Linked DNA regions of Homo sapiens. The protein of the gene in region 2 purifies or fractionates together with the protein of the main gene of each other region. This does not show direct contact. Each region holds a gene or a part of one and is shown on either strand. Other genes may lie near its edges.

Region 1 (3,500 bases), on a different chromosome or scaffold from region 2:
CAAAAAAGCAGATTCAAATTCAGAATTCAGAAATGACAGAAGTCAAAACATTTATATTATCTTGAAAATGGAGTAATTTCTCACCTCTTAACATTAGGAAAAAACTTTTCGGAGATTTTAGTTTGTATTATAAAATGGTAGGAAAAATTTACTTGGTTGTGAATGAAACAAAACATCAAGTTATGAAGCACATGGTTTATGCTACATTAAGATAAGTGACACTTAACATTATTGGTCCTACTTCCCAGCACTTTGGGAGGCCGAGGTGGGCAGATCATGAGGTCAAGAGATCGAGACCATCCTGGCCAACATGGTGAAACCCAGTCTCTACAAAAAATACAAAAAATTAGCTGGGCGTGGTGGCGGGCTCCTGTAATCCCAGCTACTTGGGAGGATGAGGCAGGAGAATTGCTTGAACCCGGGAGGCAGAGGTTGCAGTGAGCCGAGATCGCGCCATTTCACCACCCCAGCCTGGGCAAAAAGAGCAAAACTCCATCTAAAACAAAACAAAACAAAACAAAACAAAACAAAACAAAACAAAACAAAAAATACATTATTGGTCCTACTAAGAATAATTTATTTTTCAAGTAAAAAAATTCCCTATTTCAGCTGTAAGTCCAGGAAATTGAGTGTAGCTTAAGTGTAATAAATCTCAAAAAAATTTTTTTCTTCAATAGGTTTTATGTCTTTTCACTCTTACATAATATTTCTTAGTATAATGCTTATTCTATGAAACATTTAAAAGACTAAAATAATATTTGGATGGTGAACTAATCTTAAAAGCGATAAAAGGTCAGTTTGAGTTTTAAGTCACTTCCATTGAATGAATGAAATTATTTAGAATAAACCATTTCAGGAAATCTGGTGACATCACATATTCTTTAAAGATGCTAGCTATACTGAGAGGTAAAGTAATGGTGCCTTAATACTAATTTTCCTAGGCACTGTAGCACCATCCTGATCCGAAAAAGCTCAACATACATTTAAATAAAATGTTTTTTTAAATCCTTTCTTGATTATTCTTTTTTGTTTCTTCCCTTTCAGATCCAGACCTACAGATCAACATACTTTTAAATAAACTAAACCTGTAAGATTGTTGAAAATTTTTGCCAAATGATTTTTTCAATTAAAATGAACAGAAATTGCCATTACATTCAACTGCACTTTTTTAGTCAAAATCTGTATCAGCTAGGACTTATAAATGATTTGGGTTTTGTTGTTTAAATAGAGACTACTTTTTTATTTTACTAGCCAGTCCTGATCTATTCACATCCAAAAGAACAGTACAGCTTAGAATGCCTAATTTGAGCAAAACCCAGGACTGGAAAGACTGAAGTCTATCATTGAAGTCAATGCTGAACTGGTTGAAATAGGTAGGAAAGTTGGAAAGTAACCTTAGTCCACAAGTCCAGCTAGTAACTGCTGACTGTGAAGAGCAGCAAATTAAGTTAAATTGTGTGGAGAAAATGCCACATGACTAGACTAGAAGAAAATTATGGAAAATCTTAAAGCTGTCCAGATCCCAGCAACTTATGGATTAGAAAAGGTAAAAATCCTTCTACATTGTCTTTAAGTCTCTGATCTGAAGCATGTTTTATAAAGGCATAGGTAAAAATAATCTTTTTCTGAGTATTAAGTAAATCTGAAAATGGGTAGTTTTTAGGATTAACAGCTTTCATATCAGAGAATATGCACTAAGCTTAAATCCGTGCTCTCTTCTAGAGCTATAGACTGAAGAGGATGCTCACCAATGCAGTGCTAATGTTCCCAGCATCTGGAATCCAGCTTTTCTTTTACAGAGCTGAATGGATCACATATTGAACTCCCTAATCCTCATCCTACTTTCGAAGAGACAGTTCTGCATCAGTAATGGTTGTCCTCATACTTCCTTGTCTTCATCCTTACCATCCATCTCTCCTTTGCAGGCACATTTCTAATAGCACACTCTAGAGTACTGAAACACCAGGAACACAGGTTTCTGTTATAAAAACCTGTGTTCAAGCATGTATTGATGCTGAAGCTTTCCATGGTTAGCTTCTCTACAAAGGTGAGAGTTTTGCTTAAAACAAGCATTTCTTACTGAATTAACATGTAAGGAAAAATAATGCAAAGCAATTCAAGTTGAATTTTTTCACATACGTAGTTTTCCTTAGGAAAAGCTCTCCTGCATCATTTTGCAAAACTTGAAAATAAAGTTTAAAATGATCCAAGTTTTATTTGTAGACTACATTTTGAAACATTTCCCTTACAATGAGCATGATTAATTTCCATGATTATTGGGGTTGTGAAATGTGTTGGCAAAACTGCAATAATCATGTAACAATTGATAGTATTAAAATAAATTGACCATTTTAAAGCTACAATCTTAAGCAACAGAATTGTGAAGAAAAGATAGTGCTATTTTTTTCCTTTAAAGAAAAAAGAAAAAAAATCTAAGTATAAACCCCACAGTCACCATTTGCACATTGCAAATACATATCTGCTTTGTACAGTCAAGAAATATAAAATAAACTTCCTAACATATTTTCACAAAATTTATGTATCCATGATTTATGTAAAATATACTAATACACCAAGAATATCCACTAACTTAAGAAGTGAGATGAATGGGCAATAGTACCCATAGTATATATAAAATGGCTTTTAGTTTTAAAAAAGTATAGTTTTGTCATAAATATCAATTTCATTCCTTATCTCCTACCATAGCTTAAAAATGACAATAACTAATGACTGAACAACAACTAGCAAAAGAAAACCTAATGTATGCTGAAACTAGGCCTGAAAGAATATAATCTTTGAAGATGATTTAAAATAATTTAAATAAAATCCCAACAATGCTAGCTTTTAATTAAGATTAAAGCAATTTTGTTAATCATCTACTGGGTTCAAAGCTCTTTGATAATTGTTTCTGCTGCTCAGAAGCTTTTAGTCTCTAATAGAAAAGTTAATAAACTTATATTTAACCAAATATTAATAATAGTTCAAATTATAAGATGTACATTCTAATATTATGAACATATTTTAAGTTTTATTACTAGGGCAGCAAACACCAGAGCAAGCTATTTTTGTGGCTATATACTTGTGGCGCAATGCAGGTACATTTGTTTCAGTCAAGTCTCTGCAGATTCACCATCAGATTTATCTTAAACAAATTCCAGTTACTACATTCCAAAGGAAAATTATATTCTTGGCTTAGCTATGTTGGGTAGAACAAAAGCATATCTTAAGCAAGGTCCTCTCCAAAAGGAGAAAAAAATTTTTTTCTAATAAAGGCAATCCTTTAATAATAAAAACCTCATGTTCCATGAATTGAACTGCATGGCATATCAAATATTTTAATTCTAATTCTAAAGTATATAATATTTAATAGAACTTTATAAAATGGCATAGTCCAATAACTAAAATAGCATAGTCCAATAATGTAGACACTAGCCATATGAAGGTAGCGTAATTTTATTCACTAACACGTAATTTTATTTACTAAAATTACATCAAATAAA
Region 2 (2,518 bases):
TGTGTGCCACAACTTTTCAATGGCAATGTCTGGTTCACTGGCTGCTGATTCTGTGTCACATTCTGCAAATTCCATAGGGACGATGCCTGCCTTCTGCCAACATTTCACCACTGTGGATGGCTTGACTGACCACCACGCTGCAGCAATCATGTCGATGGCCTGCTTGATGTCCACCTCTTCTTGATCCTCACTGCTGTTGAGCTTGAGGAGGATCTGTTTTAGAAGGTGGCTCTGGTACAGTACTTTCATGGTGTGAATTATGCCAAGATTCAGTGGCTGCAGGACAGCAGTACAGTTGGAGGGCAGATACCCAACCTGAATCCTTTCCAAGTGTGGAAGCATGTTATGAGCAGAGCAGTTGTCTATGAGCAAGAGGATCCGGCGTTCCGCCCTCTTCATCCTGGCATCCACTTGCATCAGCCACTCATTAAACAGATCCCTTGTCATCCAAGCCCACTGGTTGGCTCGGTAATCACAAGGGAGGGAATGAATGTTCTTGAGGCAGTGTGGGCTGGCTGACCTACCAACAATCAATGGTCTCATTTTTTCAGTCCCCGAGGCATTGCAACAAAAGAGTGCTGTCAACCGCTGCTTTGCTTTCTTGCCCCCTCTACAGTGGTCTCCTTTAGCAGCAAGTGTGTGCTGGGGAAGCAACTGGAAAAACACTCCTGTCTCATCAGCATTAAAGATATCATCTGGGCTGTAGTCAGCAATCAGTTTTATAATTTCCCCTGCATGCCACTCATTAATCTTATCTATTCCTAGACCATTCATTAACCTGTCACTATCTTCTCTACAGACTGCTTTCAAAGCAATTCCGTGGCGATCTCTAAATCTGTTCAGCCAGCCCACACTTGCTTGAAAATTGTCATAGCCAAGCATGTTGGCCAAGTTTAGTGCTTTTTTCCGAATGACAGAACCAGTCACAAGAATGTTTTTGGCATGGATTTCTTGAAACCAAGCAAAAACAGCCTTATCAATGTCATCATAAAGAGCGCTCCTCATCCTTTTCCGCTGGGGTCCCACGGATGCCTCCCGCACCTTTTCTTCAAATTTGGTGCGATCCTTTAAGAATGTAGATAAAGTAGAGGGAGTGATACCAAATTCTTTTGCCACATCACCTTTCCTCTTGCCTGAGTCTACAGCTCCCACAACTTTCATTTTCTCCTCCAGAGAGAACTGCCGACGCTTCTTGTTCCCCTTGTTTGCCATTTCCAGGGAATGAGGGCTGGCCACAACTAACAGGACTGTCTGGTTCCTCCTCGCGGCTTGCTTTGCCCCAAGTGTGGAAAGCTGAGAAGACAAAATGGAGTACCTATCAGGAAACAATGGATTTCCCCTAAAAGATGGTTCAGGATTTTTACAAATTGTATTAGGAAAGGACAATTTACAGTCAAAGTAAAGAAAAGATAGGATTCATGCTACTGACTTTTTGTAGAGGCTACTTGTAAAGACTCAGAATGTTTGAAACAGAAGTGATCTTATCTAGCTTACTTAAACATTCTGAACCTCCATAAAAATGGGAATAACAATGTTTGCTCTGCCTACCATGAGAACAGATTGAAATAACAGGCAGTGAAAGAGCTTGGCAAATAGCATTGCACTGTATACATTCCGAGTTATTCTCCAGCTTCTTTGATGGACACAGAAACTGGGGCCCTGGGAAGGGGCCTACCCGGGTTCATGCAGCTTAGATTTCTTAACTCAGATTACTATTTCTGCCAGGCCATGGTCCTGCTTGAAATTCCACCAAAGTGAGATCTTCAAAGCTCTACCACCATCTGGCCTGGAAAGATTTTTACTGTGGGAAGATGTTTCTGGTAGCCATACATTCATTTTATATTTACAGGTGCCAAGCTTTAAGGGTAGAGTAATGAACAAAAGAGTCAAGGTCCCTGTTCTTATGAAATATAAAATGTGGTGGGAAATATAAAAAGTAAACAGATAATTACAGAGGGTGATATGTGCTATAAAGGAAATAAAGACTATGACAAAGAATAAAAGAGGAAGATCTACTTATTATACAAAGGGTGGTCAGGGATGTCCTCACTAAGATGGCACTGAAGCTGAGATCTCCAAGAATATGGGGAAAGGGCTGTCCAGCAAAAGACATAGCATCAGCAAAACCTCAAAAGCAAAAATAGGCCGGGCGCTGTGGCTCATGACTGTAATCCCAGCACTTTGGGAGGCCAAGGCGGCCAGACCAGCCTGGCCAACATGGCGAAACTCCGATTCTACTAAAAATACAAAAATTAGCCGGGCGTGGTGGCGGGTGCCTGTAATCCCAGCTACTTGGGATGCTAAGGCAGGAGAATCACTTGAACCCAGGAGGCGGAGGTTGCAGTGAGCTGAGATCGTACATTTGCGTTCTAGCCTGGGCAACAAGAGCAAGACTCTGTCTCAAAAACAACAACAACAACAAAAAACAAAAAAAACACACACACCGAAAATAGCTTGAGGTATTCAGGGAACTGAAATATTTGCATGAATCCAAGTATATGACAAAGGTGGGTGGCCA
Region 3 (3,500 bases), on a different chromosome or scaffold from region 2:
GACAGAGCAGGACTCCATCTCGAAAAAAAAACAAAACAACAAAAAACAAACAAAAAAAGAAAAGCCCTGCAGAGGCCCCCACCTGCCCACCCCACCTCACCTGGCCGTCGTGCCTGCGCTTCTTCATGAATTGGGTGATGCACATGCTGCCCGCTGACTTCCTCTTCAGCGAGATGGGAGTGCCCTGGCTGGGCCCCGTGGAGGGGACGCTGCCACTGTCCTCTTTGGGGGCCGAGGGCACCGATGTCACATAGCTCCACTGGCACGGCACGGGCAGGTGCTCCTGCTGGAAGCTCTGTAGCACCTGCGGGTGCACGTACCAGCACATCCTGAAGTCAGGCCGCTTCTCATACACTGAGTTCTCGGAAATGAGCCGCTTGAGCCGGGACTTAGAGGGGATGGCGGCATCCTCGCTGGGGGTGGGGGTGTGCAGGTAGGTGGTGGAGGGGCTCCGCGGGCTGCCGGTGTGGTTGCTGAGCAGTCCCCGGCGGCAGTGCTCCTGGAACTCCCGGATGATGACCTTGCTCCCGTTCACATTGCCGTGCAGGAGCGGCAGCAGCTGGGCCAGGACTGGCAGGAGGGAACATGGGTGGGCATGAGGCTTGGGGAGCCACCCATCACCACAGGCCAAAAAACAAAACACATACACAAGCTCATTGCCACCGAGGCTTGGGGCATGGCCAGCTTCGGGGATAGGTGGCCTCATGAGGGCGGGTGTAAGACAGGGTAGCACCTACGCACCTGCCCAGAAGTGAGCCTTGGCCGGGCACGTGTGTTGCCAGGGCTGACTTCAAATGCCTGCTGTTCCTACCCAAATGACTGCCCTGCTCTCCTTGTGTGCCATGGTCCCTCCCCAGTTTTTTGAGTTTTTTTTTTTTTTTAGACAGGGTCTTGCTCTGTCACCCAGGCTGGAGTGCAGTGGCAGGATCATGGCTCACTGTGGTCTGAAACTCCTAGGCTCAAGCAATCCTCCCACCTCAGCCTCTTGAGTAGCTGGGATCACAGGTGCGTGATACCACACCCAGGTAATTTTGCATTTTCTGCAGAGATGGGGTTTTGCCATGTTGCCCAGGCTGGTGTCGAAGCACTAGGCTCAAGCGATCCTCCCACCTTGGCCTCCCAAAGTGCTGGCATCACAGGCATGAGGCACTGTGCCCGGCCCCTCCCTGGCTTTTGAGAAAGCACAGCCCCCACTCCAGCACTCTCTGTGCCTGTGTCCTGGTTGATAAAACAAGCCAATTAAGGGACCTGCCTCGTCCTGCTGCTAGGGACATCATTGAACGTACGGACATGTACAGGAAAAGGGCTGGCCTCTGTTATTTGTGGAAAGAACATTTGCATCACGGACCCACTAGCCTGTGACTCTTGCCCTCAGCCCTGGAATTAGCTGGGCCCAGGAACAGGTGGGTGGCCTGGCCCCGCCCACACTCACTCTGCTCGTCTCTCCTCTCCCGCTTGGAGGCCTTGGGCGTCTGCTCCTCCTGGGCCGGCAGGGTCTCCAGGAAGCAGGCTGCGAACTGCTGCAGTACCTTCAGGTCATCGCCTGCGCAGTCTCTGTCAGCCGCCCACACGCAGCCGATCTTCACAGGTTGCAGGACGCGAAAGCGCTTCCCCTTAGCCAGGAACTCGTCCCACTCCTTGGCCTTCAGTTTCTGGCGGACCTTATGGTTCTCAGGGTCGGCACACTCCTTGTGGTTTAGAAAGCAGAAGTTTATTTGGGGTTCTTGCTCCCCTATGCCCGGGCACTCTTTTGAGGAACCAGTCCCCAGCCAGCTGGGGAGCAAGAGGAAAGGACAGGGGCACAAAACTTCCCACAGTGTCAGGGCCAGGGCAGAGCACACCATGCGCTGGCTGCCCCTCTTCCAGATGGAATAATTCACACCTGGTCTCCTTTGGGAGCGTCACAGATATTTCTGAACTCACCCATGAGGCCTCTTTTAACACCCCTCTGAATTTTCTGGTGAATGTGTGATCGTGGAGCCGTTTAACAGGGTTGGGTGTCTACCCACATGGCCCAGGCATCTGGCAGACACATGCAGGGCCTGAGACCACTCTCTGACTGACAGTTCAGGCCTCGGTGGTCAGATATGCACAAGGAATGCCTAGGCCTCCAGTCCAACCATGAGACAGTCCCACCAAATCCCCACTTCCCAAACGACAGGCCTTCAAAACAAAACAGGACCAAAAACAACTTGCTTGAAAGCAAGTTCCTGCCGGGCTCGGTGGCTCATGCCTGTAATCCCAGCACTCTGGGAGGCCGAGGCGGGTGGATCACTGGAGGTCAGGAGTTCAAGACCAGCCTGGCCAACATAATGAACTCCCGTCTCTACTAAAAATACAAAAATTAGCCAGGTGTGGTGGCACACGCCTGTAGTCCCAGCTACTTGGGAGGCCGAGGCAGGAGAATTGCTTGAACCCGGGAGGCAGAGGTTGCAGTGAGCCAACACCGGGCCATTGCACTCCAGCCTGGGTAACAGAATGAGAATCCGTCTCAAGAAAAAAAAAAAAAAAGACAGTTCCACAACCTTATGGAATCTGGAAAGGGGTGGCAGGCAGGTTCGCCTGCAGAGACGTGGGCAATCTTCTGGAGAGATAGGGAAGTTCTGTTTTATTTCGGGCGGTGGTTGCCCACATTCACTTGATTGTTACGTCATCAAACTCAACACTTACAATGCACATGTCTTGCTGCATGCTGACTGTATGTCAGCTCGGGTGGTTTCCAGCCTTCTAACCCACAGACCATGGCCACGCTCCCTCACCAGGGTGTCTGCTCCTATGGCTCCCCTCGCTTGCAAGCTCCTCCTACGTCTGCCACCCTCCCAGGTAATACCAAGTTCAGGCCCAGCTGTTCCCACGAGTGAGCTTGCGTGCTTGGAATGCAGTCCAAATCTCGTATGGTTGGGCTGGGACCCCCGTCACCCTCCCAGGTCAGGCCACTGAGCACCAGTCCAGAAATGAACTTTTGCTGAGCCGGTGACCTCCCCCTTCACTCCCTCACCTCTGTCACACCTTCGTCCTCAGACAGGTACCCATGGGGCACAAAGAAACCATCGTCCTCATCTTCATCCTCTCCCATGTCGTCATCATCATCCTCAAAAGGAGAAAAAAAAAAGAGTTCATCAGATAGAAAAGCAGAGTGTGTGCCTTATTAAAAACAAAGTAGGCCAGGCGCAGTGGCTCACACCTCTAATCCCAGCACTTTGGGAGGCTGAGGTGGGCGGATCATCTGAAGTCAGGAGTTTGAGACCAGCCTGGCCAACATGGTAAAACTCTGTCTCTACTAAAAATACAAATCTTGGCTGGGCATGGTGGCACGCACCTATAATCCCAGCTACTAGGGAGGCTGGGGCAGGACTATCACTTGAGCCTGGGAGGCAGAGGTTGCAGTGAGCCGAAATCGCGCCACTGCACTCCAGCCTGAGTGATAGAGTGAGACTCCATCTTAAAGAAACAAAAAAATGTAAAGCTGTGAACATCTGCTTTGCATGGCCTCCCGACAG
Region 4 (3,500 bases), on a different chromosome or scaffold from region 2:
TGCTCTTGAACAACCAATAGGTCAATGAAGATATTAAAAAACAAATTAGGAAGTTTATTGAAAAAAATGAAAACTGAAACACACAGCATACAAAGCCTATGGAATACAGCAAAAGCAGTTTTAAGACAGAAGTTTTTATAACAATAAACACTGACATCATATGTCTTCTGCAAACAGGAACAGTTTAACTTCTTTTCCAATTAAGATGCCTTGTATTTCTTTCTCTTGTCTTATTGCTCTTTCTAGGACTTCCAGTATTATGTTGAACAGAAGTGGCAAAATTGGGCATTGTGCAGCTGGGCATGGTGGCTCACACCTGTAATCCCAGCACTTTGGGAGGCCGAGGCGTGTGGATCACCTGAGGTCAGGAGTTCGAGACCAGCCTGGCCAACATGGCGAAACCCCATCTCTACTAAAAATACAAAACATTAGCCAGGTATGGTGGCGTGCACCTGTAGTCCCAGCTACTCGGGAGGCTGAGGTGAGAGCCTGGGAAGTTGAGGCTGCAGCGAGCCGTGACTATGCCACTGCACTCCAGCCTGGGTGACAGGTTGAGACTGTCTCAGGAAAAAAAAAAAAAAAAAGGCAATCTATGAAACTACTAGAAAACAGGAAGAAAAGTCAATGGCATTGGTCTGGGCAATGATTTTTGGAGGATATGACCTCAAAAGCACACTCAACAAAAGCAAAAACAGACAATTTGGATCACATAAAACTAAAAATCTCCTGCACTGCAAAGGAAACAATAAAGAGAGAACTGGCAGGCGCGGTGGCTCTCGCCTGTAATCCTAGCACTTTGGGAGGCTGAGGCAGGCAGACCACCTGAGGTCGGGAGTTTATTACCAGCCTGACCAACATGGAGAAATCCCGTCTCTACTAAAAATACAAAATTAGCAGTGCATGGTGGCACATGCCTGTAATCCCAGCTACTTAGGAGGCTGAAGCAGGAGAATCCCTTGAACCCAGGAGGCAGAGCTTGCAGTGAGCTGAGATCGTGCCATTGCACTCCAGCCTGGGCAACAAGAGCGAAACTCCACCAAAAAAAAAAAAAAGAGAGAGAGAACATACAGAATGGTTCACTATACTCGTAAACTATATATCTGATAAGGGGTTAATAACCAAAATATATAAGGAACTCCATTCAATACCAAGAAAATAACCTCATGTAAAAATGGGTAAAAGATCTGAATAGACATTTCTCAAAAGACATACAAATGGCCAAGAGGTATATGAAAAAAATTCTCAACATCACTAATCATCAAAGAAATGCAAAAAAAAACCCACATGAGGTATCACCTCACTCCCATTAAAATGGCTATAATCAAAAGGATGAAAGATGAGGCCAAGCGCAGTGGCTCACGCCTGTAATCCCAGCACTTTGGGAGGCCAAGGCAGGTGGATCACCTGAGGTCGGGCGTTTGAGACCAGCCTAGCCTGGCCAACATGGTGAAATCATGTCTCTACTAACAATATGAAAATTAGCCAGGCATGGTGGCGGGTGCCTGTAATCCCAGCTACTCGGGAGGCTAAGACAGGAGAATCGCTTGAACCTGGAGGTGGAGGTTGCAGTCAACTGACATCTCGCCACTGCACTCCAGCCTAGGCGACAGAGCGAGACTCTGTCTCAATTAAAAAAAAAAAAAAAAAAAGGCTGGGCACGGCGGCTCACGCCTGTAATCCCAGTACCTTGGGAGGCCAAGGTGGGAAGATCACCTGAGGTTGGGAGTTCGAGAGCAGCCTCACCAACATGGAGAAACCCCGTCTCTAATAAAAATACAAAATTAGCCAGGCATGGTGGTGCGTGGCTGTAATCCCAGCTACTCGGGAGGCTGAGGCAGGAGAATTGCTTGAACCCAGGAGGTGGAGGTTGCAATGAGCCGAGATCATGCCATTGCACTCCAGCCTGGGCAACAAGAGCCAAACTCCGTCTCAAAAAAAAAAAGATGACAGATAACAAGTGTTGGTGAGTATGTGGTGATAAAGGATAATCTAAGCATGCTGTTGGTGGGAATGTGAATTAGTACAACCATATGGAGAAAGAAGAGTATGGAGTTCCTCAAAAACCTAAAAACAGAGCTACCGTATGATCCAGTAATCCTGCTACTGCATATATAGCCAAAGAAAATAAAATCAGTATGTCAAAGAGAGGCCTGCACTCCCATTTTATTGCAGCACTACTCAAAATATGCAAGATATAGAATCAACCTAAGTATCCATCAACCAACAAATGGATAGGCTGAGCGCGGTGGCTCACGCCTGTAATCCCCATACTTTGGGAGGCCGAGGCAGATGGATTGCTTGAGGTCAGGAGTTTGAGACCAACCTGGCCAATATGGTGAAACCCCATCTCTACTAAAATACAAAAATTAGCCGGGCTTGGCGGCGGGTGCCAGTAATCCCAGCTACTAGGGAGCCTGAGGCAGGAGAATTGCTTGAACCCAGGAGGTGGAGGTTGCAGTGAGCTGAGAACGCGCCACTGCACTCCAGCCTGGGTGACAGAGTGAGACTCCGTCTCAAAAAAAAAAAAAAAAAAAACCACACAGACAAATGGATAAAGAACATGTGGTATACGTATACAGTGGGACACTGTTCCAATCATAAAAAAGAAGGAAATTCTCTCATTTCCAACAACATGGATGAACCTGGAGAACATTATGTTAACTGAAATAACACAGGCACAGAAAGACAAATACATATTATCTCACTCATATATGGAGTCAAAATTGATCTCACAGAAGTAGACAGGAGATGGTGGTTACCAGAGGTTAGGATGGTTGGGGTTACGGGGGTGGGGATTGGGAAGATGTTAGACAAAGGATACGTAATTACAGTCAGGAGGAACAAGTTTAAGAGCACTACTGTATAGCATGGTGATTAGTTAACAACATACTGTATTCTTGAAAAATACTCAGTAGCTATTAAGTATTCTCACCACAAAAATGATAACTATGTGAGATAATGTATTTGGTAATTAGCTAGATTTAACCATTCCACAATGTACAGATAATGTACTTCAAAACATTAGCAAGCATTGTTCAAATTAATTTTTTTTTTGACACAGTGTCTTGCTCTGTCGCCCAGGCAGGAGTGCAGTGACACGATCACAGCTCACTGCAGCCTCAACCTCCCAGGCTCAACCCATACTCTACCTCAGCCTCCCAAGTAGCTGGGACTGCAGGTGCACATCACCACACCCAGCTAATTTTTGCATTTTTTGTAGAGATGGGATTTTCTTGTATTGCCCAGGCTGGTCTTGAACTCCTAGGCTCTAGTAATCCACCCACCTCGACCTCCCAAAGTGCTGGGACTACAGGTGGAAGCCACTGCACCCAGCCTCAAGCTACTCTTGACAAGCCTTATTTTTTTTTTTTTTTTTTTTTGGAGATGGAGTCTCGCTCTGTCACTCGGGCTGGAGTGCAGTGGCACAATCTCAGCTCACTGCAAGCTCCGCCTCCCGGGTTCATGCCATTCTACTGCTTCAGTCTCCCCAGTAGCCAGGA

The links. Proteins that work in one complex are often made in the same cells at the same time.
Region 1: the proteins of TIGD6 (region 2) and MRPL13 purify together in Homo sapiens (affinity purification with mass spectrometry; one large-scale study listed by BioGRID and IntAct). This does not show direct contact.
Region 3: the proteins of TIGD6 (region 2) and CHAF1A purify together in Homo sapiens (affinity purification with mass spectrometry; one large-scale study listed by BioGRID and IntAct). This does not show direct contact.
Region 4: the proteins of TIGD6 (region 2) and UBE2V2 purify together in Homo sapiens (affinity purification with mass spectrometry; one large-scale study listed by BioGRID and IntAct). This does not show direct contact.

The regions. Positions count from the first base shown.
Region 1 is NC_000008.11:120,407,151-120,410,650, forward strand, and holds part of MRPL13 (large ribosomal subunit protein uL13m), read right to left. Parts: intron 1-3,500.
Region 2 is NC_000005.10:149,995,137-149,997,654, forward strand, and holds part of TIGD6 (tigger transposable element-derived protein 6), read right to left. Parts: intron 1,294-2,518; 5' UTR 1,213-1,293; coding exon 1-1,212.
Region 3 is NC_000019.10:4,430,140-4,433,639, reverse strand, and holds part of CHAF1A (chromatin assembly factor 1 subunit A), read right to left. Parts: intron 3,092-3,500; coding exon 2,999-3,091; intron 1,689-2,998; coding exon 1,433-1,688; intron 571-1,432; coding exon 101-570; intron 1-100. UniProt on the Homo sapiens protein: Acts as a component of the histone chaperone complex chromatin assembly factor 1 (CAF-1), which assembles histone octamers onto DNA during replication and repair.
Region 4 is NC_000008.11:48,014,931-48,018,430, reverse strand, and holds part of UBE2V2 (ubiquitin-conjugating enzyme E2 variant 2), read right to left. Parts: intron 1-3,500. UniProt on the Homo sapiens protein: Has no ubiquitin ligase activity on its own. The UBE2V2/UBE2N heterodimer catalyzes the synthesis of non-canonical poly-ubiquitin chains that are linked through 'Lys-63'. This type of poly-ubiquitination does not lead to protein degradation by the proteasome.